Linked DNA regions of Homo sapiens. The protein of the gene in region 1 purifies or fractionates together with the protein of each later gene. This does not show direct contact. Each region holds a gene or a part of one and is shown in the gene's direction. Other genes may lie near its edges. The genes, in order: COPA, COPG2, NUDCD1 and G3BP1.

Evidence for each region.
Region 2: the proteins of COPA (region 1) and COPG2 fractionate together in Homo sapiens (co-fractionation; 4 studies listed by BioGRID and IntAct, with this or other methods). This does not show direct contact.
Region 3: the proteins of COPA (region 1) and NUDCD1 purify together in Homo sapiens (co-immunoprecipitation; 3 studies listed by BioGRID and IntAct, with this or other methods). This does not show direct contact.
Region 4: the proteins of COPA (region 1) and G3BP1 purify together in Homo sapiens (affinity purification with mass spectrometry; 2 studies listed by BioGRID and IntAct, with this or other methods). This does not show direct contact.

What each region holds. Positions count from the first base shown.
Region 1 is NC_000001.11:160,291,247-160,298,280, reverse strand, and holds part of COPA (coatomer subunit alpha), read left to right. Parts: intron 1-535; coding exon 536-725; intron 726-842; coding exon 843-938; intron 939-2,131; coding exon 2,132-2,220; intron 2,221-2,421; coding exon 2,422-2,545; intron 2,546-3,423; coding exon 3,424-3,513; intron 3,514-3,687; coding exon 3,688-3,797; intron 3,798-4,817; coding exon 4,818-4,895; intron 4,896-5,046; coding exon 5,047-5,115; intron 5,116-5,454; exon of another isoform or gene 5,455-5,660; coding exon 5,661-5,797; exon of another isoform or gene 5,798-6,082; coding exon 6,083-6,269; exon of another isoform or gene 6,270-6,351; coding exon 6,352-6,462; exon of another isoform or gene 6,463-6,784; coding exon 6,785-6,946; exon of another isoform or gene 6,947-7,024; intron 7,025-7,034. UniProt on the Homo sapiens protein: The coatomer is a cytosolic protein complex that binds to dilysine motifs and reversibly associates with Golgi non-clathrin-coated vesicles, which further mediate biosynthetic protein transport from the ER, via the Golgi up to the trans Golgi network.
Region 2 is NC_000007.14:130,560,719-130,567,752, reverse strand, and holds part of COPG2 (coatomer subunit gamma-2), read left to right. Parts: intron 1-3,359; coding exon 3,360-3,493; intron 3,494-4,416; coding exon 4,417-4,484; intron 4,485-6,531; coding exon 6,532-6,720; intron 6,721-7,034. UniProt on the Homo sapiens protein: The coatomer is a cytosolic protein complex that binds to dilysine motifs and reversibly associates with Golgi non-clathrin-coated vesicles, which further mediate biosynthetic protein transport from the ER, via the Golgi up to the trans Golgi network.
Region 3 is NC_000008.11:109,331,088-109,338,470, reverse strand, and holds the start of NUDCD1 (nudC domain-containing protein 1), read left to right. Parts: upstream 1-4,383; 5' UTR 4,384-4,460; coding exon 4,461-4,578; intron 4,579-7,383. Other genes in the region: transcription and mRNA export factor ENY2, read right to left, coding at 2,267-2,343, 3,997-4,002.
Region 4 is NC_000005.10:151,788,953-151,795,986, forward strand, and holds part of G3BP1 (ras GTPase-activating protein-binding protein 1), read left to right. Parts: intron 1-1,370; coding exon 1,371-1,452; intron 1,453-1,936; coding exon 1,937-2,110; intron 2,111-5,206; coding exon 5,207-5,297; intron 5,298-6,526; coding exon 6,527-6,623; intron 6,624-7,034. UniProt on the Homo sapiens protein: Protein involved in various processes, such as stress granule formation and innate immunity. Plays an essential role in stress granule formation.

The sequences.
Region 1 (7,034 bases):
GAGGAGGAGGAGGATAATGCGATGTAATTATTTCCATCTCTGTATCCAAAGGGGTCCTATGTGTTCACTGGATTTTCTTTTTTTTTTTTTCTTTTTTTTGAGGCGGAGTCTCGCTCTTGTTGCCCAGGCTGGAGTGCAATGGCATGATCTCGGCTCACTGCAACCTCCGCCTCCTGGGTCCAAGCGATTCTCCTGCCTCAGCTTCCCGAGTAGGTGGGACTACAGGCGTGCACCATGATTCCCAGCTAATTTTTTTTGTATTTTTAGTAGAGACAGGGTTTCACCATGTTGGCCAGGATGGTCTCGAGCTCTTGACCTCGGGATCCGCCTGCCTTGGCCTCCCAAAGTGCTGGGATTACAGATGTGAGCCACCGCACCCAGCCGATTTTCAATGGAATTAGACTAAAAGCTAGGAGTAATTGAAAGTATAGGAAGTTCTTCAGGAAATCTATATAGATGCAGATGCTTTGCAGAGTCCTTGGTTTTGAGTCACATTGTCCTTCAACCTGTTAACACGACCCTGGGGATTCTTTAGATTGCTCTGGAAGCAGCCAAAGCACTGGATGACAAGAACTGCTGGGAAAAGCTGGGAGAAGTGGCCCTGCTGCAGGGGAACCACCAGATTGTGGAAATGTGCTATCAGCGTACCAAAAACTTTGACAAACTTTCCTTCCTGTATCTTATCACTGGCAACTTAGAAAAACTTCGCAAGATGATGAAGATTGGTGAGGCCCTCAAACTAAGGATGGGAAGAGGGGTTCTTGGGGGAAGGAGGAAGGTGAATTAAGGAGAAAGAGAACTTAAGAGAAAAGACCTAACTTGGTGTCTCTTACTTGGTGCAGCTGAGATCAGAAAGGACATGAGTGGCCACTATCAGAATGCCCTATACCTGGGTGATGTGTCAGAGCGTGTGCGGATCCTGAAGAACTGTGGACAGAGTAAGTATCCGAGACTTGCCAGCTTTTTCAGGGTCTGAGGAAGTATTTTTCTGTTTTTGTTGAGTTAATCTGTGTATAGTGGTGAGGGATTTCTCTTTATTGTGCATTTTTTTAGGAGAGACAACATGCTCCTACTGTGCTTAGAAGATTTTCTTCAAAGCCAAAGGGAGGTGCAGCCAGAATATTCAGTCCAGCCAAACACCCTTAGGAGAATAGTTATTCATGGGGGAGATAGGAGGTTTTAAAAGGTCTTGAGTGGACGCCCTAGTAAATGCACTTGGTTGGATGCCATTAGAATTTTATTCTTTATTTTCAGTTTGGAGGTTTCACTCATTTATTCATGTATATAGTCAAGGGATATTTTTTGAGAACCCACTATATACCAAGCATTATATTAGCATTTAAGATACATTAGGAAACAAGCAAGGTGAAAGATGAGGTTTGGACCAAGGCGCTATTAGTGGAGGGGTGAGCAGTGGTCAGATTCAGGATATATTTTAAGGTAGAAACAACATGATTTATTGCGGTAACTAGATTTGAGATGTAACAGAGAGGAGTCAGGGATATCCAAGGTTCTCAGCACGGATGGATACGTCTCAAAGATAAGCAGCTATATTAGTTCTCTATTTCTGTGTAACAAATTATCCCCAAATTTAGTAGTTTAAAACCACAAACATTTATTATTTCACAATTTGTGGCATGGCTTAGCTAGGTGCCTCCGGCTTAGGATCTCTCATGAGGCTACAGTCAAAGTGTTGGCCAGAACTGCAGATATCTGAAGACTCACCGGGGAGAGAATCTACTTCTGCACTCACTCAATGGCCATTGGCAGCCCCCATGTCCTTGCTCCCTGTTGTCTAAGAAACATCACTTTCTTTTCGTGTTGACCTCTCCATAGGAGTTTGTAACGTGGTAGCTAGTTTCCCTTACAGCAAGTGAGCAAAAGAGGGCACCCCAAGATAGAAGCCACAATCTTTGTAACCAGATCTAGGAAGTAACATCCCATCACATCTGCCATGTTCCATCCATTAGAAGCTATTTAATAAATCCAGCCCACACTTAAGAGGTGGGTATTTTGCAACAACTTGAATACCAGGAGTCAGGGATTACTGGGGGGCCATTTCAGAGGTTGCTTACCACAGCAGCATGCATTTGGAAATGTACCTATACCACAAAGTCTGTTTTCTCTACAGAGTCCCTGGCCTATCTCACAGCTGCTACCCATGGCTTAGATGAAGAAGCTGAGAGCCTAAAGGAGACATTTGACCCAGAGAAGGAGACAGTGAGTCTTTATTTACATAATTGTCTCTTATTACAGGATTAACTCTAGGATCTTAGAACAATTTAAAATTATGAATGTCACTCTCCCACCTGGTTACCAGGAGAGGCAGAGAAACAAATGAGATCAAAGGAGGCTCCATAACTTTCCTTACGTGACTTCCAAGTGCTATTTGTTTTTAGCCTCTTTTCTTCTACTATTCAGATCCCAGACATTGACCCTAATGCCAAGCTGCTCCAGCCACCTGCACCTATCATGCCATTGGATACCAATTGGCCTTTATTGACTGTATCCAAAGGATTTTTTGAAGGCACCATTGCCAGCAAAGGTAAGTACCTATTTCTCCCATAGCACTTTTGTTGTTTGTTTTGTGAAGAACTGTCCTAGAGAATACCATTAGCATTTAGTTTAACTTGTCCTTTTTTTCTGCATGGAGCCTAATGGAATATTGAAATGCCAGTCATTTATGGTGCAGTCTTAAAAACTTAAGATAGCATTTTCAGGTCATTAAAGAAAATTTGGAAAATAGGGAGAAAAAAAGGGATCCCTCTACTACCATCAATAACTTCGGTTAATATTTTGGTGTATTTTCTTAGGTTTTACTATATATGTAGTCATGTTCTTTGTTCAGTATTTTATCATTCATGACATACAATCTTAAAGGTACTAATTCAACTACCTGTAATTCCGGTATGTGGGTATAGGCAGATGTGTGCTATCACCCTCCACCACTTCCACCCTTAACCTCCTCCTGTTTTCTGGGTCTCCTAGTTCATTTCCCGTGAGTAAGAGCCTAAACAGACTCTTGAGCATTTTGTGCCAAACCCCACTCTTTTCTCCACCTCCTCTATCTACCCTATGCCTGATGCCCTGTACACATTGTAGTGGTGGTAGCTTAGCAAAGCGCTCAGGAAGAAATTCAAGAGTTGGTAGCCAAAGGCTGGTAAGTACAAATTATTTAAGAGCCAGTTTTTGGTAGCAGGAAGGCCAGTTCCTTCCATCTGTCTTCTATTCCCTCCCTCTGTGAAAGCTACTGCAAGTTAGCATAACATATATACCACAAAAATAAATAATACACAAAAATAAATAGTAAGTAGGCAGAAGCTTGGCACCTGTTTTTGAAAGGATTTAACCTGCCTACAGAAAAGGCCGTATCTCAGACTTGCTGGACTATAACCAGTTCCGTTCTGTTCCTTCCCTCTGTAGGGAAGGGAGGAGCACTGGCTGCTGACATTGACATTGACACTGTTGGTACAGAGGGCTGGGGAGAGGATGCAGAGCTGCAGTTGGATGAAGGTAAAAGTGCTGTTTTAAGACTGTTCTGGGGTGATGGACACCTTGGATTGGGACTGGGTTGTGGGTAGCTCTGCAGACTTCCAGGCCATGAAACGAACTAGGATTGATTTTACTTCCTTTGGCTAAGATTATGCCACTGCCCAAATCTGTTTTGAGCTTGAATTTTCCTTACAGATGGGTTTGTGGAGGCTACAGAAGGTTTGGGGGATGATGCTCTTGGCAAGGGACAGGAAGAAGGAGGTGGCTGGGATGTAGAAGAAGATCTGGAGCTCCCTCCTGAGCTGGTATGTGGAATTTGTACCCTTAGAAGGTTCTCTCCGTATCTCCCTGTGGAAGCCAGAGGCCTTATTGTCCCCTACCACTATCCTCAGGTCTCCTATCCTATCCCCTACCACTATCCTAAGGTCAGCCCTTCTGGGAAGGGGACTAGACCCTCCTAGTCTGATGCTTATCTCCCATTTGAAAGAAGGAAGATGGCTGGGCACGGTGACTCATGCCTGTAATCCCAGCACTTTGGGAGGCTAAGGCAGGACAATTGCTTGAGCCCAGGAGTTCAAGACCAGCCTGGGCACCATAGCAAGACCCTGTCTCTATTTTAAAAAGTAAAAGAAGCAGGAAGAACGAGAGAGTCAAAGTTAGTGGCCTTGTCACTTCCATCTATCCTGATATGCTCCAAGAGGAGAGGATGTAGGACTTATCTCTAATCTGATGCTTAACTCCCATTTGAAAGAAAGAAGAATGAGGTAATCAGCGTTCTGCCAGCAGCAGCTTATGAGAAGGTAGCAAGCTGTTTCATCTGAATTGGAGTTTTTGATATGTCATTTTGTCACTGGTGAGGTGGCTCCTATTTTGGCAGCCTTCTCCCACAACTATCACCCCTCTTCCTCAGTGGGGGCAGGGAACAATGTAAATGGTTGTGTTCTAGATTCAACAGAACAAAGTGCTTGAATGGCTTAAAAAATTACTCAATTTGGCTGGGCACAGTGGCTCACGCCTGTAATGCTAGCACTTTGGGAGGCTGAGCCAGGCAGATCACTTGAACTCAGGAGTTGGAGACCAGCCTGGGCAACATGGCAAAACCCCATCTCTACAAAAAAATACAAAAATTAGCCAGGTGTGGTGACTCATGCCTGCAGTCCCAGCTACTCGGGAAGCTGAGGTTGGAGGATTGCTTGAGCATGGGAGGCAGAGGTTGCAGTGTGCCGAGATCATGCCTCTGTACTCCAGTCTAGGTGACAGAGTGTGACCCTGTCTCAAAAAAAAAAAAAAAATTACTCAATACTCAATTTTTGTTTTTCCCCTAGGATATATCCCCTGGGGCAGCTGGTGGGGCTGAAGATGGTTTCTTTGTGCCCCCAACCAAGGGAACAAGTCCAACTCAGGTAAGCGGGAAGAAACCTAGCACGGCAGGGATGAGTGGCTAATACTTGATTGGTATATAACAGGTGTTGGCTACTTTTCTACTATAGTTACAGAGGAGAATAGAGAAGGGACAAAGTTTCACTTGGCTTGGGTTTTTTTGTTTCTTGTTAGATCTGGTGTAATAACTCTCAGCTTCCAGTTGATCACATCCTGGCAGGCTCTTTCGAAACAGCCATGCGGGTAAGTAACCTTGGCTTTTCCTCTTGAGTGTGCCTAGCCCAGGGTCCCCGGGAGATGGTTGACTCATTTTAATCAAGGGAAATTATCCTACCCATAAGGGGAAAGGTGTATATTTTTCATGAAAACTCTTTATCTTTGTTAAGTACACTTGCCTTCCTGTTATCTGCCTTCCACTTGGCCTAGTAATCTCTTAGGGCATATCCTTCAGTCATCTTCCACCCATTTATAGCTTGCTTTCTGGCTCATATCAGTGAGATAAGTACCCCTTTCCAAGCAGAGGTCTGTTTTGAACACTAAGCCAGTATTGTTATAATAACAACAATAATGATAACACTGCAATAACTGCTAACGTTTATTTAATGTTCACTGTGTGCCAGGCACTATCCTAAATACTTTAATAGGTATCATTAAATGAGGTAGGTCTTACAATTAAGTGTATTTTACTGATGAGGAAACGTGAACAGAGAAATTAATTACCTTGCCCAAGGAAAAGTAGCTTTTTATGCAGCAGGGCCAAAATCCTTGTTTCTTTCCTTCTGTTCCAGCTCCTTCATGACCAAGTAGGGGTAATCCAGTTTGGCCCCTACAAGCAACTGTTCCTACAGACATACGCCCGAGGCCGCACAACCTATCAGGCTCTGCCCTGCCTACCCTCCATGTATGGCTATCCTAATCGCAACTGGTAAGGCCCTTTTCTCTTTGCTTTCATCTGTTCCAAGTTGTGGTCGATATTTCAGATGGTAGCCTCAGTGACATAGTCAGAATTCTCTCAGAGCTAGGGTTTCCCAGTAGAAAAAGATCTTTGGTTTGTTACTCTATGGGGTTGGTTTACACCTGCTGTCATCCTCTTCCCCAGCTACTTTAACAGGAGACAGGAGGGTAGCTATGAGGATGTTTGCCAGAAAAGGAAATTGGGTCCTAGTTGCCTACTGACTATCCTGTCTTCTTCCTACTTTTCCCTTTCCAGGAAGGATGCAGGGCTGAAGAATGGTGTACCAGCTGTGGGCCTGAAGCTTAATGACCTCATCCAACGGTTGCAGCTGTGCTACCAGCTCACCACAGTTGGCAAATTTGAGGAGGCTGTGGAAAAATTCCGTTCCATCCTTCTCAGTGTGCCACTTCTTGTTGTGGACAATAAACAAGAGATTGCAGAGGTAGGAGGGTCTAGCCGCTGTCCCAGTTCTGGGCACTTCCACATTCTTGTCTCTGTATCCTGACCTTCTGCCCCCTCTACAGGCCCAGCAGCTCATCACCATTTGCCGTGAGTACATTGTGGGTTTGTCCGTGGAGACAGAAAGGAAGAAGCTGCCCAAAGAGACTCTAGAACAGCAGAAGCGCATCTGTGAGGTAAGATCTATAGGACCCTGAGCACAACAGAGACGTCCTTCCCTTCACCCTTCACTAGGTTTGAATTCTTTAATTTCAAACCCAGATCTGAGTGGGGATGAAGAGAAATTTAGGCCCTTCATTTCTATGAGGGGAGGATACATTTCTTCATCCTACTTCCTCATCTCACCAGTCCTCCATACCTAGGAGGTAGAAGACCTCTCAGCTTTATAGCCCATCATCCTATTTTGTGTTGTGTTTTTTATGCATGTGTAGCAGCTTAGAAATGACTTCTACCAGGTGTAGCATCAACCTGGCATGTGTTCCTTTTTCTGTCCACCAGATGGCAGCCTATTTCACCCACTCAAACCTGCAGCCTGTGCACATGATCCTGGTGCTGCGTACAGCCCTCAATCTGTTCTTCAAGCTCAAGAACTTCAAGACAGCTGCCACCTTTGCTCGGCGCCTACTAGAACTCGGGCCCAAGCCTGAGGTGGCCCAACAGGTAGATGGAACTCCTTCAGTGACCATAGGGAAGCCAGATCAGCTCTTACATGGAGGGAGCAGACCAAGGTCCTTGCCTCTGAAACAAA
Region 2 (7,034 bases), on another chromosome or scaffold:
TATCTGAAAAGAACTTTATCTTTCCTTCATTTATGAAGCTTAGTTTCACTGGATACAAAATTCTTGGCTGATAATTATTTTTTTTAAGGAGGCTATCGATAGGACCCCAGTCCCTTCTAGTTTGTAGGGTTTCTGCTGAGAAATCTGCTGTTAATCTGGTAGGTTTTCCTTTATAGCTTACCTGATGCTTGTGCCTCACAGCTCTTAAGATTCTTTCCTTCATCTTGACTTTAGATAATCTGATGACTAAATGCATAGGTGATGATCTTTTTGTGATGAATTTTCTGGCTGTTCTTTGAGCTTCTTGTATTTGGATGTCTAGGTCTCTTGCAAGGCCGGGGAAGTTTTCCTTGATTATTCCTTCAAATAAGTTTTCCAAACTTTTAGATTTATCTTCTTCCTTGGGAACACCAGTTATTCTTAGGTTTGGTCATTTAGCATAATCTCAAACTTCTTGGTACCACCCAGTTGGTAGTTTTTTTATCCTCATCCTCTCCCACCCTACACCCTCAAGTAGGCTCCAGTGCCTATTGTTCCCTTCTTTGTGACCATGTGCACTCAATGTTTAGCTTCCCTTATAAGTGAAAACATGCAGTATTTGGTTTTCTGTCCCTGTGTTAATTTGCTTAGGATAATGGCCTCCAGCTCTATCGATGTTGCTGCAATGGACATAATCTCATTCATTTTTATGGCTGCATAGTATTCCATGGTGTATATGTACTACGTTTTCTTCATCCAGTCCACTGTTGTTGGGTATCTAGGTTGATTCCATGTCTTTGCTATTGTGTGTAGTGGTGCAGTGAACATAGGAGGGCCTGTGTCTTTATGGTAGAACTGTTAGTCCAAACTGTACCATTTTGTAAGCCCCTTGTCATTTCATAGACCTTGATCAAAGTGAAACATTCCTTGGGGGACTGGGCCGTGAGAAACATCCTGCCCGACTGCCTGACTTTCTTATCACATTCTGCTGGGAAAAAGTCCAAGGAACATCACTGTCACATCCTGCCAGAACAAGGGCCAAACCACCTCATCATGGGAACATCTTATCAACATCCTCCCGGGCAGCAAGCCATAACCCTCAGACCCCTCCCTCCCAGGCCTAAAATTGCCCCAGCCTGTAAGCAGAGGTGGGCCCTGGCATTAAGCTGGTGCCCCGCCTCTGCAGGTCTTATGCTGGACATAAAACCTGCATTGCTGTAGAGCCGCCAACTCTCTCTCAGTCTTTCTTTAATCCTCGCCTTCTCATCAAAACCTAAGAAGAACAATTCATATTCCTTCGGGTTCGTATTTAGTAATGGGATTGCTGGATTGAATGGTAGTTCTGAGGTCTTTGAGAAATCTCCAAACTGCTTTCCACAGTGGCTGAACTAATTTGCATTCCCAACAGCAGTGTGTAAGCATTCCCTTTTCTCTGCAACCTCACCAGCATCTGTTACTTTTTGACTTTTTAATAATAGCTATTCTGACTGGTACAAGATGGTACCAAGCATATGAAAAAATGGTCAACATCACTAATCATTAGAGAAATGCAAATCGAAACCACAATGAGATACAATTTCACACCAGTCAGAATGACTATTTTTATGCTTTCAACAGTTTCACTCTGATGTGTATATATTTGAATATTTTTGTATTTATTCTGCTTGAGACTTTTTGAGCCTCTTGGGTACATAAATTAATGTTTTTTCTAAATCAAACTTATGAGGTTTTCAGCCATGGTTTCTTCTTATGTTCTTTTTCCCCTTTGTGTCTCTCTTTTCCTATGAAAACTCCTATCATCCAAAATGTTGGTACCCTTGGTCATGTTACACAGGTCTCCAAAGCACTGTTCATTTTTCTTCCTTCTTTTTTTATTTTCATCAGCTGGTTTATCTCAGTAGATCTACAAGTTTTCTTATTCTTTCATCTGCCTGTGCAAGTCTGCTATTGAACTTTTTCTGGTGAATTTTTCATTCCAGTCATTGCACTTTGCAAATCTAGAATTTCTATTTGGTTTCTTAAAAAAAAAAATCATTTCTGTCACTTTATTGGTAGTCTCATAAGACATCTTGTTGTACTTCCCTTTAAATTAAATATTTTAGTTTCCTTTAGTTCTTTGAACATATTTATATTAGCTGACTTAAAGTTTTTGCCAGTAAGTTCAACATCTGGGCTTCCTCAGGAATAAATTCTATTGACTACTTTTTTTCCCCCATAGATGGGTCATAGTTAAGTATTTCTTTGTGTGTCTCATAATTATTTTGTCAGAAACATTATATTTTAAATATTATAATGTGACAACACTGGTAATCAGACCTTCCCTTTCCCTATCCCTGGGGTTTGTTGTTTTTGTTGTTGTTTGTGACCTTCCTGGACTATTTCTGTAGTCTTTATTCTGTATCTTGTATAGACACTGAAGTCTTTGTTTGATTAGCTGAGTCACAAATAATAATTTGACAGATTTTCTTAAATGCTTTAAACCAGTATGTCTCCCATCATTTTCCAACGGGTGCTGTGTATGTTGGGGCGTGCTTTCCATGCCCCGGGAGTTCACAGCTCTGCCTTAGCCTTCACTTCCTGCTTTGTGCAGAGCCTCAGAGTCAAGCAAAGGTTAGAGAGCGGAGCTCTGTCAGGTCTTTAGTGGCTGTTTGCTTAGCCCTGCACATGCACATGACCTTCTGTATCCCCAGAAATATTTTAGAAATTTTCAAAGCCCCCTAAGGACATCTCATTTCTCAAATTTTCCTTTTAAGTTTTTTGGCCAGCCTCTTGTTTGCCCCTGCTAAAATTGCTGCTTCTGGCAGCTGCAAGATTAACCAAATACTACTGATTTTTTTGGACAAACTCCCTGGGCATAGGGCTTTTCATGCTGAATGAGCTCTTGAGTCAGGTGAAGTAAAGATTAGCCTGTGAATAGGGCTTTTCTAGGAGCACCAGACAGGTCACATAGTGACAGTTCTCTGGGGATGAGATTTTGGCCCAGAGCTGCTTTTGTAGCTAGGCTGCTGGCATTCACAGTTACTGTGGTTCTGAGGCTGCTGGTTTCCAAGACTGCTATGGAACTGGGAAGAGGTGCATGGAAATTGAGAATGAGTAGGTTAAAACACCAGAAACTTCACCATTTTTACTAAGATTCAGCTACTTTTCTTAAATAGATGTTCAGGATTGTTGCAAATCTTTGATTAATTTTTTAGAGTTCTGCAAAAGTTGATTTTGACAATTTTGCCAGTGTTCTAATTGCTTTGTGATGAAATGAATTTTTAGAAATCCCTCATCCACCATTCCAGAAGTGCCTCTCAATCTGCCTGTGCTTTTAATCCCTATGCATATTGCCTCTCTATTTGATATCTAAATAATGGCCTATAAATATTTATTGGCAGCCATGAAAGTCCACTGTTTGATTTCATTGAGAGCTGCTTGCGAAATAAACATGAAATGGTTATTTATGAAGCTGCTTCAGCTATCATCCATCTTCCTAACTGCACTGCAAGAGAGTTGGCACCTGCTGTTTCAGGTTTGTTTTATATTTGATGGCTGGCTTTTATGTTCCTAAGTTTTTGCTTTAAGTTTCATAGGTCTACAGAATAGGTATTAAGAATGTTTTCTGAACACTAGCTCTGTGTATATATAGCCTTTGCATTCTGATAGCTTATATGTAGATAGTTTATTTTAGTTGTTCCTTACTTTATTACTTTTTTTAATGTTTCTATTTCTCCATATAAAACTTTTGAAAGAATTTTATTTATATGTACATAGTTTATTAATAATAGTTCTTTATTGCTTTTTTTTAAAGTTTCTGTTTCCTCGTATGAAACTTTTGAAAACATTTTACAGTTTTCCTTGGTGTTTAAAAAGCCCATTTGTTTTCAGAACTGTCAATATTTCTACCATTTAGTTCAGGTATTAATGGGTATTCTAATTTTTTTTTAAAAAGAGCAAACTTTGTTTCTTATTTAAGTTTTTATAACTGACCAAAAGTGCTTTTTCTTTTTTTTTTTTCTTTTTTTTTTTTTTTTTTGAGACGGAGTCTCACTCTGTCACTGAGGCAGGAGTGCAGTGGCACGATAGCTCGGCTCACTGCAAGCTCTGCCTCCTGGGTTCACGCCATGCTTCTGCCTCAGCCTCCCGAGTAGCTGGGACTACAGGCGCCCCAAAAGTGCTTTTTCTATTTTGATGTTACATTTTTCATGTAAATTTTTGATGCTGTGATAAAATGTATGCATATTTTGAATGTGATTCATTATGTACTATATTTTCAGCTATATGGTATATGATGAGATAAGGAATATTCACAGCATATATAGGTAATAGTCACTGTATCTATATCTGTATTTTACTTCTTCAACTTTTCTATAGTTCTCTTAAGCCAGGAGTATTCACGGTATGTATATGTAATATTACTTAATGTTACATATTATTATTATTATTTTTTTTTAGTTCTTCAACTTTTCTGTAGTTCTCCTAAGCCAGCCTTGAGATATGCAGCTGTGAGGACCTTGAACAAGGTAGGTGTTTCTTTGCTAATTATTGACTTATATCAGTATTTAATTGAGAAACATTAAATGTGAAGCATTTGGTTTTCTCTCCAAGGTTAGTATATGTGATTTATGGGCTTCACCTCTACAACACTTCACTTGTATTTGTGGCCTTGAGTATGCTCATTTTTATTATTATTTAGCTGAAGATTATAACTCATTTCTGACTTCTAAGCATTTTATATTCAAGAGCCACACTGTCCAATATGGTGGCCATTAGCCACCAGTGGCTATTTCAATTTAAATTAATTAAAATAAAAAATTCAACCCTCAGTCACATGAGTCACACTTCTTGTACTCACAGCCACATGTGGTCAGTGGCTGTTGGACAGTGCAGATCTTGAACATTTCTGTCATTGAAGAAAGTTCTCTTGCACAGTGCTGGTCTACAGCAGCCCTGTCCAGTAGAAACCCACTGTGAATCACATATGTAATATTAAATTTCATAATAACCACATTAAAATTTTTAAGGTAAAATTAATTTTAATAGTATATTTTATCATAATACATATAATATGTCATCTCAACATGTAATAGATATTTTTACATATCTCAAGTTTTTGACATCCAGTATATTTACATTTACAGCATACTCAGTTTGGATTAGCCACCTTTCAAATGCCTGGTAGTCACATGTTGCTGTTGGCTATGTTATTAGACAGTATAGATTTAGAGGATATAATACAGAAACACAGAATAAATTAAATAAGCATAGAAAATGTAAATGAAAGTTAAATGTAATAGAAGACTTGTCATAGGCAATACATAATTATAAATTAATTGTGTAAACAGTCGAAGAAAAGAGAAGTTTAGAGCAGCCATGGAAGAAACCTTTATAGAACAACAATTTAAATGGTTTTTTATTTATTTATTTTTTTTGGAGACAGAGTCTCACTTTGTCTCCCAGGCTAGAGTGCAGTGGCACGATCTTGGCACACTGCAACCTCCGCCTCCCAGGTTCAAGCGATTCTCATGCCTCAGCCTCCCAAATAGCAGGGATCACAGGCACCTGCCACCACGTCCGGCTAATTTTTGTATTTTTAGTAGAGACAGGGTTTCGCCATGTTGGCCAGGCTGCTCTCAAACTCGTGACCTCAGGTGATCTGCCCACCTCGGCCTCCCAGAGTGCTGGGATTGCAGGTATGAGCCACCAAGCCTGGCCTAAATTGTTTTTAAAGAGTTGATACAGGTCTACAATCCCTCATCTCTAATCTTGGGGCCAGATGTGTCTCAGAATTTGCTTTTAGTTAAATTTTAGAAAGGTTATATGGTGTTATCTCTTATTTACTAACCCCAGTGGGCCTGGGGCAGCATCCCACCATTAAAAAACATTAATATTTTTGCACAAAACATATGACTATCCTTGTCAAGTGGTATAAATTAAGAATTAAAGAGTTTCGCATTAGTTTGGGTCATGTTTTGCTGTTAAATGGATTTTCATCCCAGTGCTCTGCTTTCCAGAGTGTTTTCAGATTTTCCAAATTGTGGGTAAGGGATTCCATACCAATATTGGGATAGACAAAGAGGTGGGACAACATCAACAAAAACAAGGATGCAGGAGAATGGCAGACCATGTAGTAACCATAGATAATGCAGTTTGGCTGGAGTTTGCGTCTTGAAATGCAGCAGTATTTTTTAACTGATAAGATATTAACAGTCTTTGTCGAGCACTGACTACTATGCTAGATCCTGTTGTCAGTACTCCTAACATCTAATAGAATAGACGTATATGAACACACGTACTATAAGGAAATACAGGCCAATTATAATTTTTTAAAAATGGTAATGTTAGAAAGGTTAGAGGAACCTAACAAAAGAGAGTACGATGCTATACTCTGGCCGTTGATCATTTATTAAAAGATATACCTTGTTAACTGGAGCCATTCTTTTTGTTTTTGAAGCAATTACTTTTAACTTATCCTGTCCTCTTTGGATTGCCACTTACCTCAATTAAAATTTAAGTTCTGGCCTTTATCAAAAGCAATTTGCTTAATTTTTTTTCTTGCCCTTCCACAAGGTGGCAATGAAGCACCCCTCTGCTGTTACTGCCTGCAATCTGGACTTAGAAAACTTAATCACAGACTCAAACAGAAGCATTGCTACCTTAGCCATTACTACACTCCTCAAAACAGGAAGTGAGAGCAGTGTGGACCGGCTCATGAAGCAGATATCTTCTTTTGTGTCTGAAATCTCAGATGAGTTCAAGGTAAGAGTTTAAACATGATCATATTTTCTCCCAGTCTGTTGGCTGCCTATTTATTTTCTTAACGGTATCATTTGAGAAGCAGAAGTTTTAAATTTTTATGAAGTCTAATTTATCAATTTTTTTCTTTCATAGTTATTACTGTTCCCTAAGAAACCTTTATCTACTTGTTTTCTCATGCTTTAGGCTAAATGCTTTATGGTTTTAGATTTTACATTTTAGGCAATGATCCAACTTGAATTACTGTTTGTTTGGTAAGTTCAGTATTTTTTCCATACCTATATCTACTGTATTCCACCATAATTTGTTGGAAAGAC
Region 3 (7,383 bases), on another chromosome or scaffold:
AGGGCCAAAATCCAACTTTTGATTTTCTACCAATTCATCCTGTTTGTTCTTCTTCTGAGAATGGCAATTCCATTCTTCTGGTTCCTCAGACTAGGAATCTCTGTAGTATCCTTCCACTCAGCTGCCTTGTTAACACTACACATCCAATTTATGAGCAAATCCTATTGGGTTCAATTTAAAACATATACCTAGAATTCACCTTTCTCACTATCTCCGCCATTACTACTCTAGTTCAAGCCATCATCTCTTCTCTAGAATATTACCATAGCATTCTAGGTTGTCTCCCTGCTTCTTCCCTTGTACACTTAGTTCTTCTCCTGCTGCTCAAAAACCTCCAGTGCCTTCCCAATTTACTCAGAATAAAACTCCAAGACTTTATTACAGCCTACATGATCCTTCATGATCTGCCTTCTCCCCAGCTATGCCACTGACTTAATCTCCACTCTCCCTCACCCAATTTACTCAGTCTCCCTAGCATCCCTGTGCTCCTCAAAAATGAAAGGCAAGCTCCTATCTCAGGAACTTAAAGAGTCCCTGCTCACCCTCATATCCTTCTGATTTTTTTTTTTTTGAGACGGAGTTTCACTCTTATCACCCAGGCTGGAGTGAAGTGGCGCGATCTCAGCTCACCGCAACCTCCGCCTCCCGAGTTCAAGCGATTCACCTGCCTCAGCCTCCTGAGTAGCTGGGACTACAGCCCATCACCATGCATGGCTAATTTTTGTATTTTCAGTAGAGATGGGGTTTCACCATGTTAGCCAGGATAGTCTCAATCTCCTGACCTTGTGATCTGCCAGCCTCAGCCTCCCAAAGTGCTGGGATTACAGGCGTGAGCCACTATGCACGGCCTCCTTCTGATTTCTTCTTTGTTTTTTCTATCTAAAATATTACACCTCTTTATTTTCTGCTTTATTGTTCCTCTAGTGCTCATCACCATCTGACATTATTACACAGTTTTATCTGTCTCCTCCCATTAGAATGCAAGCTCTGTGAAAACAAAGTCTCCATTTTTGTCTACTACTGTTACCTCCAACACCTTAACAGGGCATGGCATATGATAGAAACTCAGTAACTTGAAGCTGCATGAATCAAAAACAAACAACAAAAAAAAAAAACAACATACAATCCGTACTCCTTACCAGCAGTACTATCCTCTAAAGCTACCCAAGGCAGTTATCGATGCCTCCTTCCTCATTTTGAGGGTTGCTGTTTCTACATTTTATTAAAATTCTAAGGTCTCCTTCCAATTTTTGGAGTTTTCCATTTTCAACCCTATATAATCTTCTACCTCATTTTTCTGCCATCTATCTTGTCCCCTTCAAGTCCAAGCTCCACACCAACAGAGTAAGATTCCTAAAGTGTAAATGTGATCTAGTCATTTCCTTTCTTAAAACTTTAAATGACTCCCATCATCCAAAAATAAAGTCAGCAACAGATGCACCTCTTTTTCTTATTGTGTGAGATCTTACATGATCACCTGAATGCCCGGGTTGAGTTGAAAGATTCCCCCTCTTCCTTATACATATTTGCCTCTTCCTTATACATATTTGTCTTACTCACTTTATAACCCTGCCTCTGGGAGCCTTTCTTGATTCCTCAGCCCCTTCTTTGTACTTCTAAACCTGTTGATTCTGCAAATATTTACGTGGCCAATTATGAACCAAACAAAGCATTAGATGCTGGGTATACAATGTTGTTTTTGGTGTTAAAGAACTTAGATTATACTGGAGGATACAAACTAGCCAAGTAGATTGTTAGAACACAATGTTGATTAAATGCTATGATGGAACAAGGTATTTGGGACTTAAAAACATTCCTTGAAGAGACAATATATAAATTAGACCTGATAGTTGAGCTAGAATTAGCTAAAAAGGAAGAGAAGGAAGAATGTTTTAGAGAGTGGAAACAGCACTTGCTGCTCCAAGGTTGAGAGCTTGGTAAATGAAGCTGGTTCCACAACATTGTCTCCCTGTTAAAACCCAGGTAACATTATGTCTCCAGTTGTAATTCAGGTATGTACTTTTTCTTCTCCATCAAATTACTCTTTAAGAGCCATATCTTGCTCATCTTTCTACATCACCACTTCCCTCCAAGTCCTGCAATACTTAACAAACCTAAATTATTTTTTCCAGATGTTCGGAATAGAAACTTTTATAATCTCAATTGTAATTCTTTCCAGTGACATGTTTCATTTCTTGTTTAGATTCTTACAAGCTAACTATTAAAGGCGGTGAAATGTAATTTATTAACACAATCTATTACTTACCGTTCTCTTTCTCCAGTTTCTATCAACTTTTGGTTAATCGCTGCTCTCATCTGCGCATCTTTGTTCATCTTGCTAACCTGGACATCAACATGTACTTTCAGATATAGAACATTTACAAAGCATTTTCTGCTAAATCCTCTAGGCAGGCATCCTAACATGTTTACCATTCTATTAACTGAAGGGGTGATACATTTCAAGTGTGTTAATAATATCATTACTCTTTATTAAACACTTATGTGCTTGGCACTGGGCTAATGCAGTGTGGGTTTGCTTTTTTTTAAACATCACATTTAATTCCCAGAACGTATTGTTACATATTTATATTAATAAAATAATCTGTATTTTACTGATGAGGAAACTGAGGCACAGAGATAGAAAGTGGAAAGGCAAAATTTGAACTCAAGTACTTTGACCCTAGGAGCTCCAAAACTGAACATAACTGCCGATCACTTCTGCAGAGACTGCATCCAAAAATTGGGAGAAGTCATACATACTAAACATCAAAAAAAGATTAAATACTATTAGTAAAAAAATAAAATTACCAGGCCGGGCACAGTGGGTCACACCTGTAATCCCAGCACTTTGGGAGGCCCAGGCAGGTGGATCACGAGGTCAGGAGTTCAAGACCAGCCTGACCAAGATGGTGAAACCCCGTCTCTACTAAAAATAGAAAAATAAGCTGGGCTTGGTGGCAGGTGTCTGTAATCCCAGCTACTCAGGAGGCTGAGGCAGGAGAATCGCTTGAACCCAGGAGACAGAGGTTGCAGTGAGCCGACATTGCGCTGCTGCACTCCAGCCTGGGTGACAGGGCAAGACTCTGTCTCAAAAAAAAAAAAAAAAATTAATTAATCAAAAAAAATAAAATTACTAGATAAGGCTCTAAGTGTTTTGCTTTACTCTTCACTAGGATGAACCCACAATTACAACTGCTAAACCTAAGTGTGTGGATGTGTGTGTTTACACACACACTGCTGGTGGGATAAGAAGAAAACAAATCTCAAACTAATTCCTAACTTACAAAGTCCTCAATTGTCAGTAAAAACAGACAACCCAAACCAAAATGATGTTGAAAGAAGAGGAAAGTTAGGTTTTGAAAGCGTTAAAGCCACTTAAAAGTTTAAATTAAATAAAACTTGGCGTAAACTAACGTTTTCCCACCTAATCTGTCACTAACTTGAGATTACTTTTGTTGTCTTCCATCTGGCCTATTGAAAATTCAGACTGGCAATGAGTTACCAGAGTTGATTTTTTTTTTCTTTTTTGAGAGGAACAGGGAAAAGGAGAAGTTGAGTGAGAACTAGGAAATGCTTGCTTTTGTAATTGGAGGCTAACATTTTCAAAATAACTACAAGGTCTAGTCAGTACCACTCCTGGAATATTGAACTTGATCTCGTCTTGGCTCCTAAAATACGGATAGTGACCTTGGACAAGTCACTTAATTCTTAAAGGCCTCAGTTTTCTCACTGGTAAAACAAGGGCGCTAGGGTATCCCTCCCAGTTCAGACATTCTTAGGGAAAATAGAACAGGGCGGAGACAGCGGGAGAGGCGGGAGAGGAGGAGCCAGAAAACAAAGCGAGGACTGGTTTCAGGCCAACTCCGGTAGCACGCCCTGTCGGAGAGCCCTACAGGCCCGCGAGCGCGGGTCGGGGACGCTAACGAAAGACAGTACATCGAAAGGAGCCTGGGCTGGGCCCGGGTCCCGGCCCTGAGGACCACGGGCATAGCTCACCACCATCACCGCGGGCGAGGGCCGTCCCTTCCCAGCGACGAAATGACCCTTGCGCTGAGGACCGTTACCTACCACACTCTTCGGCTGCCCGGACTTAGACCCTCAGTAGCTCGGGCACCTAAGCACACAGAAAGCTAGAACACGCATTTCCGGGGCGGGGTCTCGCCACCCTGCCTATAATGTGAGAATTTAACCAGCGCGGGCCGCCTCCTGGTTGCTAGGGCCTCTGGGTAACAGAGTTCAGACCTTGCCGTCGCGCGCGCGTTAAGTACCAGGAGAACTACATAGCCCAGCATGCAACAGTCTCAACTTTTTCACGGACACTACATTTCCCAGAAGGCAGTTCGCACCGCAGTGTTTTCTGGGATGGGAACCACGCCGCTTCCCAGTCTCTGTGCGAGGCGTGAAGCGCGGACCTTTCAACAAGGGCTTTATTAATTCTCACGCTGCGGCCCTGGAAAGCGATGGAGGTGGCGGCTAATTGCTCCCTACGGGTGAAGAGACCTCTGTTGGATCCCCGCTTCGAGGGTTACAAGCTCTCTCTTGAGCCGCTGCCTTGTTACCAGCTGGAGCTTGACGCAGGTGGGAAGCGGCGGCGCCCTTCGTACTCCGTTCCTTTCCCCTTTCGGCTGCCTCCGGCCTGACCCTTCCCGCAATTTCTTTCTTTCTGACTGGCAAGCGAAGCCACCGTGGCGGCTTGCGTGGACTCACGGAGGCCGCTGCTTCTGGGGAATGATGCCCATCCCAGAACCCGGTGGGAGCCGCCTTCGCGCGCTCTTCGGTAACGGGACCCTGGGCCCCCTCCGTCAGCAGCCCAGCCTCTGAGGTCTGAGGTCTGAGGGCTGGCGTGCGGGTAGTGCCTGGGGCTCTGGCTGCTGTGTGTCCACAGCCTGGCTTCTGTTTCGGGGGACGCTGAGAACATTCCTTCCTCCTGGAGCATCGCTTGTGAACGTGTGCGTTGAGAAACCACACCTCCTTGGAGGACCCCCAGTTCCTGTTTCCTCTGACCGAGAGCCGTTTCTTAGAAGAGAAACTACATTCCAGTCATAGCATTTTTAATTACTCAGTTCCTGGCACATTAAGAACTCTGGTAGAGAACATCTCTAGAAGATAGTGAGGAAAAGTGGATTTACTCCCACACTGCTACTCCTTGCTTTATCTGTAGCTGGTAGAATATCCTTACTCTTGTTTTTACAACTTAACGGCATTTTCGTTATGATAGAGCCCAGAGATCTGCATTTTAAAATTCACACCCCTGCTGATTCTGATGCATGTTTTCAGAGATCACACTTTGAGAAATAGTGATCTACAGTTAATTATAATAACAGACATTAAAGTATAAAATAAGTTTATGCTAATTGATTTATTAAATTCAGAAATATTTACCGAGTACCTGTTTTGTGTTACGTCCTGATAATATCAAAATGAACAAGACACCTTCCGTAACAAAAGAGGACTATTAGCTAGTTAGGAAGAAAATTGTAAACAGATAATTGTAAAACAATATGGGAAGGCAGTGATAGGGATATGTACAAAATACAATGGTAGTACTTGAATATCTTTCCTAAACTAGTCTGGGGATCTGGGAAGGCGTCTTGGAGGAGTTAATATCTAAGTTGAGCTTTGAAGGGTAGGTTAAGAGTTGACTAGGATGAGAGAGGATAAGCTTGATTTTTCTTTTTATTTTTTTCCTTTTCCTCTTTGCCACCGTGTTTCTTCCAGTCACCCCATGTCAGTAGATGGTATCACCATGTTTAGTTAGTGCATTAGAAAGTGAAGCCAAAATTCAGTGTCTCAAAACAAGAAGCAGTTATTATTGCTCACAAGTCTACGGGTCAGCTGAGTGGTTCTTCTAGTCCTAGTTGGGCTCATTGATGCATCCTTGTTCAGTAATGGATCTGCTGGGAAGCTCTGCTCATTTGGCTGGACTTCCTCATATGTTTGGAGGGTGGGGGTAGGGTCTCAGACTATAAGCTTGTTTAAGATTCTTTCACATGGTCTCCTCTTGACTTTTCTCCGTGTGGTCTCTTATCCTTTAGCCGACTAGACTAGCCCAGGTTGGTACCAAGAGACACTTGTGCCAGAGTCATTTGGGGTTTATTTCTTTTAGCCACTGTCTGCTTGGTAGCAAGTCCGGTCAGCTCCACATTTTGATATCTCTAGGCCTCCACCCTAATCCAAATCAGAGTTATCTCTTACCTGAACTCTAGTAGCCTCCTGACTAGCCTTCCTGCCTTCACTTTTGGGCTTCGTCATTGCATTCTCCATAAGACGTACTTATCGGCCTTTTAAATTCTATCTTGATTTGTTGTCTGTTTCCTCCACTAGACTATGAGTTCCTTGAAAACAGTGATGTTTTTCTTTTGTTCACTACCCTATATCTAGTGCTTGGCACATAGGATGTATTCAATAAAATGAGTATATGAAGAAGAGAAGAAATTGTTGAGGTCATTCCATTCATGGGAAAGCATGAGGAAAGGGAAATAATTAGTAGGTTGTATGCTGGACATCCTTGCACTCTTATATTGCTGGAGCAAAACGTCTGGGAAAGTGAGAGGAAATAAATCAGTGAGGGCCTTGTTTGCCTTTTGGATTTCTTGGATTTCCGGTCATTCAGTGTTTCCCTGACATTTTTGTATTGAGCCATTACAATATAAAATAAAACTCAGCTGCTGTAGTTCTGCCAACTTTTCTGTTTACTAGGTGGAGATGTTTCTTAAAAACTATCATTTACTCATCTATCTTTTCATAAACAAAAGGATATTTTAACACCAAAAAAGCAGGAAGCAAAATCTCACAATAAACAATCCATTGAATACTTTAACTTTAGAAAAAATTCACAAAGTTGTCCTTGTTCCGTACTCATTTCATCAGCGTTAATCTTAGATTCTGTGTTTGGGATGTACAGCTGCAGGATATCAGGTGCCATTTGAAGATTTTTTTTTTTTTTTTTTTTTTTGAGTCTGAGTCTTGCTCTATTGCGGAGGCTGGACTGTAGTAGTGTGATCTCGTCTCATTGCAACCTCTGCCTTCCGGGTTCAGGCGATTCTCCTGCCTCAGCCTCCCGAGTAGTTGGGATTACAGGCGCCCGCCACCATGCCCAGCTAATTTTTGTTTGTTTCTTTTTGTTTTTGTTTTGTTTTTTGAGACGGAGTCTCTGTCGTTGAGGCTGGAGTGCAGTGGCGCGATCTCAGCTCACTGCAACTTCCGCCTCCCGGGTTCAAGCAGTTCTCTGCCCCAGCCTCTGGAGTAGCTGGGATTACAAGTGCCCGCCACCAAGCCCAGCTAATTTTTGTATTAGAGACGGAGTTTTACTATCTTGGCCAAGCTGGTCTTGAACTCCTGACCTCGCGATCCACCTGCCTCGGCCTCCCAAAGTGCTGGGAT
Region 4 (7,034 bases), on another chromosome or scaffold:
TTTTGGTGGAGACGGTTTCCCTGTGTTGGTCAGGCTGGTCTCGAACTTCCGACTTCAGGTGATCCGCCCACCTTGGCCTCCCAAAGTGTTGGGATTACAGGCGTGAGCCACCGTGCCCAGCCTTTTTTTGTATTTTTATATTTGGTTAATTTCTTTCTACCCCATAGAATAAAACTGACATAAAACATAACAAAAAGAAAAAAGCATAGGCCAGGCATGGTGGCTTATGCCTGTAATTCTAGCACTTTGAGAGGCTGAGGTGGGCGGATCACTTGAGGTCAGGAGTTCAAGACCAGCCTGGCCAATATGGCAAAGCCTTCTCTCTATACTAAAAATACAAAAAAAGGCGGAGGTTGCAGTGAGCTAAGATTGCGCCATGGCACTCCAGCCTGAGCAACAGCACAAGACTCTGTCTTAAAAAAAAAAATGTATTTATCTGGAAGACAAATGTCAAATCTTAATAGTGGTTATCCCTGGATTAGAGCATTTTGGTGTGTTGCTTTCCTGGTAGAATATTGTTTTAATGAAAATGGATCAAAGGAGGACATAGATGGGTGAAAACCATGAGGAATTGACTTTGACATTCTTAATTGCATCAGCAGAAATAGTTAAAAAGTACTTCTAAAACCACTTGCATGAACTAGGTGTTTAAGGGGAACCGCTCACGCTTATTCTCAGATACATTAATAAAAGGACACTTGAAGTCTATGAAGAAGATAGCTGTTCCAGCCTTACCGCACATTTTCTTCCTGAGTGAAAATAGGAACTTATGTATTGGTGGCCATCTTGACATGAAACTACAAGATCCTTCCCAACAGTATCATCCTACACTGAAACCTGGAACCAAATCCATTCCCATTCAGCAAATGTTGATCAAGTGGCATGTAGGGGATACAGAGATGATTGCATACAAAGATGAAAAAGAAAACGTTTCTGCCAGGGCCAGGCGCGGTGACTCACACCTACAATTCCAGCACTTTGGGAGGCCAAGGCAGGTAGAATTGCTTGAGTTTGAGTTCGAGACCAGCCTGGGCAACATAGTTGACCTTATCTCTACTTAAATAAAAATAATCAGCCAGGCATGGTGGCATGTGACTGTAGTTCCAGCTACTTTGGGAAGCTGAGGTGCCATTGCACTCCAGCCTGGTCAGCAAGAGCAAAAAAAAAAAAAAAAAAAATGTGCACATCAAAGATCATAGCCCCGGCACATCGAAGCTGCAATGAGCTATGATTGCATCACTGCACTCCAGCCTGGGTGACAGAATGAGACCCCGTTGCAAAAAAAAAAAAAAAAGTTTGCCAGTATCAGACGTGAAAAATAAACTTAAGATACTTGAAGATGACAAGTAAATCATCTTCCCATTTTACAGATTTTATGGAAAGAACTCTTCTTATGTCCATGGGGGATTGGATTCAAATGGAAAGCCAGCAGATGCAGTCTACGGACAGAAAGTAAGCATTTCAAGCCTTATTTAGGCTGTTAAGCAGGTAGAAAATAACTCATAAAATTGAAGTGGATCATACTTAATAGATTTGCTGATAAAGATCCAGTTTCTCAACTTTTTAGTAAAAGTTGATGTGTTTTATTACTATTTGATTAATATATTTGTTGAAATACTTATGTGATGTCAGATTTGTTAATTTTGTATGATATATTCTAAAGCTTTTGTGTGTTGGAAGATAATTGGCTTTAGCATGGGGATCATCTTTTCTAAACTTTGAAAAGTGTGTTAATTCAGGACAGTTATTTAAAAAACTCAAGCGCGGTCACTGGGAATAGAGTATACAAAGAAACATCAAAATTCAGTCTGCATATCCTGTAATTTAAATATACACATTCTCTTTGTGTTGTGTTGGAAGGTTTTTTTTAGTTGGAGGTTATTTAAATTTTAAGGCATTCTCAGTTGATTATTATTATTATTATTATTTTTTTAAGGAAATCCACAGGAAAGTGATGTCACAAAACTTCACCAACTGCCACACCAAGATTCGCCATGTTGATGCTCATGCCACGCTAAATGATGGTGTGGTAGTCCAGGTGATGGGGCTTCTCTCTAACAACAACCAGGCTTTGAGGAGATTCATGCAAACGTTTGTCCTTGCTCCTGAGGTATGTGTAGGAATGATTATTTTGTAGTGATCCAATACATGAAAAAAGAAACAATGAACTGTTGTGCATATCTTTAAAAACACTTGAAATTTCAGACTTACAGAAAACTTGGAATAATAGTACACTAACTCCTATATACTCCTTACCTAGAGCAGCTGTCACCACTTGCCCACATGTGTATAATTCTTTCTCTAAAATAGTTTAGTGGGCATTTCCTAAGAATAATTCTCTTCCATTCTGTAGTACAGTTATCAAATTCAGGAAATGTTGATGCAATATAATCTATAATCCATTTTTAAAATTTGGAAATTATCTCAATAATGTCTTAACAGTAATTTTTTTTCCTTGTCCAACATGGAATCTATAATTACACATTGCATTTAGCTATCATGTCTCTAGTCTCTTCTAATCTGCACTTGTTCCTTAATCTTTTGTTTTTTTTTATTGCATTGACATTTTTGAAGAGCACACTTTTTTTGTAGGATGCTTTATGGGTGTCATTCAGTGCTTCACATTAGGCATATTATGTCATTTAGTTGTGATATGAATTTTGATTAGTTAGGTTTTGCCACTGTAAAGTTAAATATCTTTTCTCTCTCTCTCTTTTTTTTTGAGACGGAGTCTCACTGTATCGTCCAGGCTGGAGTGCAGTGGCTCCATCTCTGCCCACTGCAACCTCCGCCTCCTGGTTTCAGGCTGTCCTCCTGACTCAGCCTCCCGAGTAGCTGGGACTATAGGCGTGTGCTACCGTACTCGGCTGATTTTAGTATTTTTAGTAGTGATGGGGTTTCACCATATTCGTCAGGCTGGTCTCTAACTCCTGACCTCAAGTGATCTGCCTGCCTCAGCCTCCGAAAGTGGGATTACAGGTGTGAGCCACCATGCCCAGCCTTATTTTTTCTCTTTTTGATTTGTAAATGAAGGATGGGAGATTCTCTATCTTTTTATCTTTCTTGAACACTTATGGCAAAATATTTTCCAGGTTCATCTTGCACTGTTCCTGGCCCAGTCCCTATTCTTGAATCAGCTGTTCCTTCAAGGAGGCCTGGTTCTTTTTAGTTATACTTATGAAAGGACGACAAGTTTATGTTGAATGATTGCATTTGTGTTTTCTTCCGGATTGGTCTAGACTGAACAAGGTTAGGAATCCTGTCTGCTTAAGCATGTATATAGAAATGGCATAGTAAGAAATTGTTGATTAAATCATTGTTTTCTCTAGCATTAATCTTAAGTTTTCTTTTTAGGATAGCAAACCTGAAACGCCTAAAATCTTTTAACCTTTGAATATGAGATAACTTTTTGTCTGTGCAAAATTACATGAAGCCAATTATAGTCATAATTTTTAGAGGAAGGCTTAGATTAAAATGTAAAGATGTGGTAGACTTCTAAATATGCAAAGAATCACATGGAGTATGATTGTGAATTACAGGTTTAATTACAGTTTTTTTCTTTTAAAGGAAGTATCTAACTTCTTAGTATAATACACTATTATATAAACTGTCTCATTTAATACAGAGAGTATTGAGGTATATGTTGATATCTTTCTTTTTTGTTTTTTGAGAGAAGAGTCTCCCTGTGTTACCCAGGCTGGAGTGCAGTGGTAGGATCATGACTTACTGCAGCCTTGACTGCCTGGGCTGAAATGATAATCCCACCTGAGCCTCCTAAGTAGCTGGGACCACAAGTGCAGGCCACCATTCCTGGCTGATTTTTGTTTCTGCTTTTGTGGAGACTCACTCTACAAAAAACTCACTGTTGCCCAGGCTAGTCTCAAACTCCTGGGCTTAAGCAGTTCTCCTACCTCAGCTCTCCAAAGTGTTGGGATTTCAGGAGTGAGCCACTGTGCCTAGCTGGTACCTTTCTTTTTACAGAGGAGTAACAGCCTTAGAAACTGAATAACTCATAATATATAATTGGATCTGCACTCAGGTGTGTCTTATACCTACTGCGAGCAATCTTTTTCAGGCTGCACTACCCTTGAGTGTTTATATCAATATTTTTGGAGACAGACTTGGGGAATTTTAAATATCTGCTGAAGTTAGGAATATGATTGCCTTTTTTTTTGAGACAAGGTCTTACTCTGTCGCCCAGGCTGGAGTGCAGAGGTGCAGTCTGGGCTTACTGCACCCTCCACCTCCCGGGTTCAAGCAATCCTCCCGCCTCAGCCTCCCTAGCAGCTGGGACTACAGGTGTGGGCCATTATGCCTGTCTCATTTTTGTATTTTTAGTAGAGATGGGGTTTCACCATATTGGCCAGGCTGGTCTTGAACTCCTGACCTTAGGTGATCTGCCTGCCTCGGCCTCCCAAAGTGCTGGGATTGCAGGCATGAGCCACTGTGCCCATCCGGGATATGATTGCCTTATAATGTTTTGAGGTGTGGGCTGTGGCATTTACATGCTTAGGGCTTTGTCAGTTTTTGGATATTTATCTTGTGGTGAGGTAAAGTGTTCTGAGCAAACAAAATGTATGTGAGTGTAGTCTTTTTACCGGCTATTGTAGAGTGGGCATTTTCAGTCTTGGCACTGTTGACATTTTGGATTAACTAATTCTTTGTTGTGGGAGCCTGTCCTGTGCATTGTAGGAATTTAGCAGCATCCCTAACCTTATAAGTTGTCAGTAGCATTCCATGTAGTGAATACTGAAATGTCAGCAGGGCATGCTGGCTCATACCCATAATTCAGAACTTTGGGATGCTGAGGCGGGAGGACCACTTGAGCCCAGGAATTAAAGACCAATCCGGGCAATATAACAAGATCCCGTCTCTACTCAAAAAAAAAAAAAAAAAAAAGAAAAAAGAGAAATTAGCCTTGCATGGTGGCGCGCCCCTGTAGTTCTAGCTACTTAGGAGGCTGAGGCAGGAGGATTGCTTGAGCCTGGAATGTCAAGGCTGCAGTGAGCTGTGGTGGCTCACTGCATTCCCACCTGGCTGACAGCAAGACCCTGTCTCAGAACCCCACAACAACAAAAACTGAAATGTCTCCAGATATTGCCAGATGTCTCATGGAGGCAGACTTGTCCCAGTCACCAATGGTGTAGAGTGATTTGACTTTCTAAAAGTCTGTTGAATAAATTAAAACTTTCTGTTGGCATTGCAGGGGTCTGTTGCAAATAAATTCTATGTTCACAATGATATCTTCAGATACCAAGATGAGGTCTTTGGTGGGTTTGTCACTGAGCCTCAGGAGGGTAAGTAGTGAAATACTTTAAATTACTTGTCTAAATTTTTTTTAATGGCATCCGATTGCCCTTAAGAGACTATGGGTTTCTTTACTGTTTTCATTACACTCTGTTCTTCATTAATAACTAATTATGGTATATGAAGAGTCTGAGGTTTTACCCTACTTGAAGCTGCTAACAGGTTAGCTTATATCATGGATGTTAGTAGAAGACATAAGACTCTTAGGTCAGAAGGAGACAGGCTAACTCACAGCGACAGTAGTAGTATTTTTGCCACATTTACCAATAGGATGTCATGGAGAAGGCTAGGTGATACTTCTACTGCAGTGGGTTGTGTTAAAGGCATGGGACACTGAGTTTAGGGAACCCAGATCTATTACAACAGGCAGTAAACATGACTACTCTTTGTGCTGGAGGGAGATACTCTTTCAAAGCTGTTTGCTATATAAATGTTCTTGAAAGACAGTCTAGAAGAAAGGGTAGGCATGGAAGATGTGTAGACACAGAGACTTATGGAAAATTTTCTCCAAAATAGTAGAATTGAGTGTTGTTTATATGGCTGAGAGTATATTTATTTTGTAATACAGTTTTACAGATAAGCAATCATTTGCCTAGTAAAGTGGTAGAGCCTGCATTAGATAACTGCCTAATATAATTTGGCTAATGTCACGTAGCCAGTAAGGTGACAGAGCCTGCATTAGGCTCCATGCTCTTAAAAACCAAGACACTACAGTAGCCTTAAAGTCTATCCTTAAGGCTGGGCGCGGTGGCTCACGCCTGTAATTCCAGCACTTTGGGAGGCCCAGGCGGGCAGATCACGAGGTCAGGAGATCGAGGCCATCCTGGCTAACATGGTGAAACCCCATCTCTACTAAAAATACAAAAAATTAGCCAGGCGTGGTGGCAGGCGCCTTAGTCCTAGCTATTCGGGAGACTGAGGCAGGAGAATGGCGTGAACCCAGGAGGTGGGGCTTTCAATGAGCCGAGATCGCGCCACTGCACTCTCTAGCCTGGGCGAGAGAGCGAGACTCCGTCTCAAAAAACAAAAAACAAAAAAAAGTCTGTTCTTCAAAGCCTTAGTTCTGTCCTTAAAGTCAGTGCCATGATTTTACCAAATTGTCCTACTTTGTTTATTTATATATGTTTTTCTTCACTGTTGTTTTGTGAACATTGCGAAAGTTAATGTATATGTGAATTCAGTAAGTACAAATTACTTTAAATATCTTTTTCTCACTTAGAGTCTGAAGAAGAAGTAGAGGAACCTGAAGAAAGACAGCAAACACCTGAGGTGGTACCTGATGATTCTGGAACTTTCTATGATCAGGCAGTTGTCAGGTAAGAAGATTTTGTTCACATGTCCGGGGCTGCATAAGAACTTGCATTGTCTAGTCTTTCCCTTTGTTGGAGGGCATTTACATATTCTGAGAATTACCTCAAAATAATAATTTCTCAGAAGAATGGTTTTGTTTCTGGTAATTTTGACTAAACAAAAATATGTAACTTGTTTGTTAATAGTAAATTGTACTATGAAGGCAATCTACTATTGCTTAGTTTAAATAGTATCAGTTTCTTTTTGGTTTAGTTTTTTCTTGGTGTTAAGTGAAAACTTGCATATTGTTTATCAAGAGTTGAATGTATTGAGGTATTAAATGCTTTGAGGGAATATGAAGTGGACAGAGACCTATTTAATTAGAGATCGGGCATAAATTGATATAAATACCAATATGTGAGTTAAGTAGCAATAAA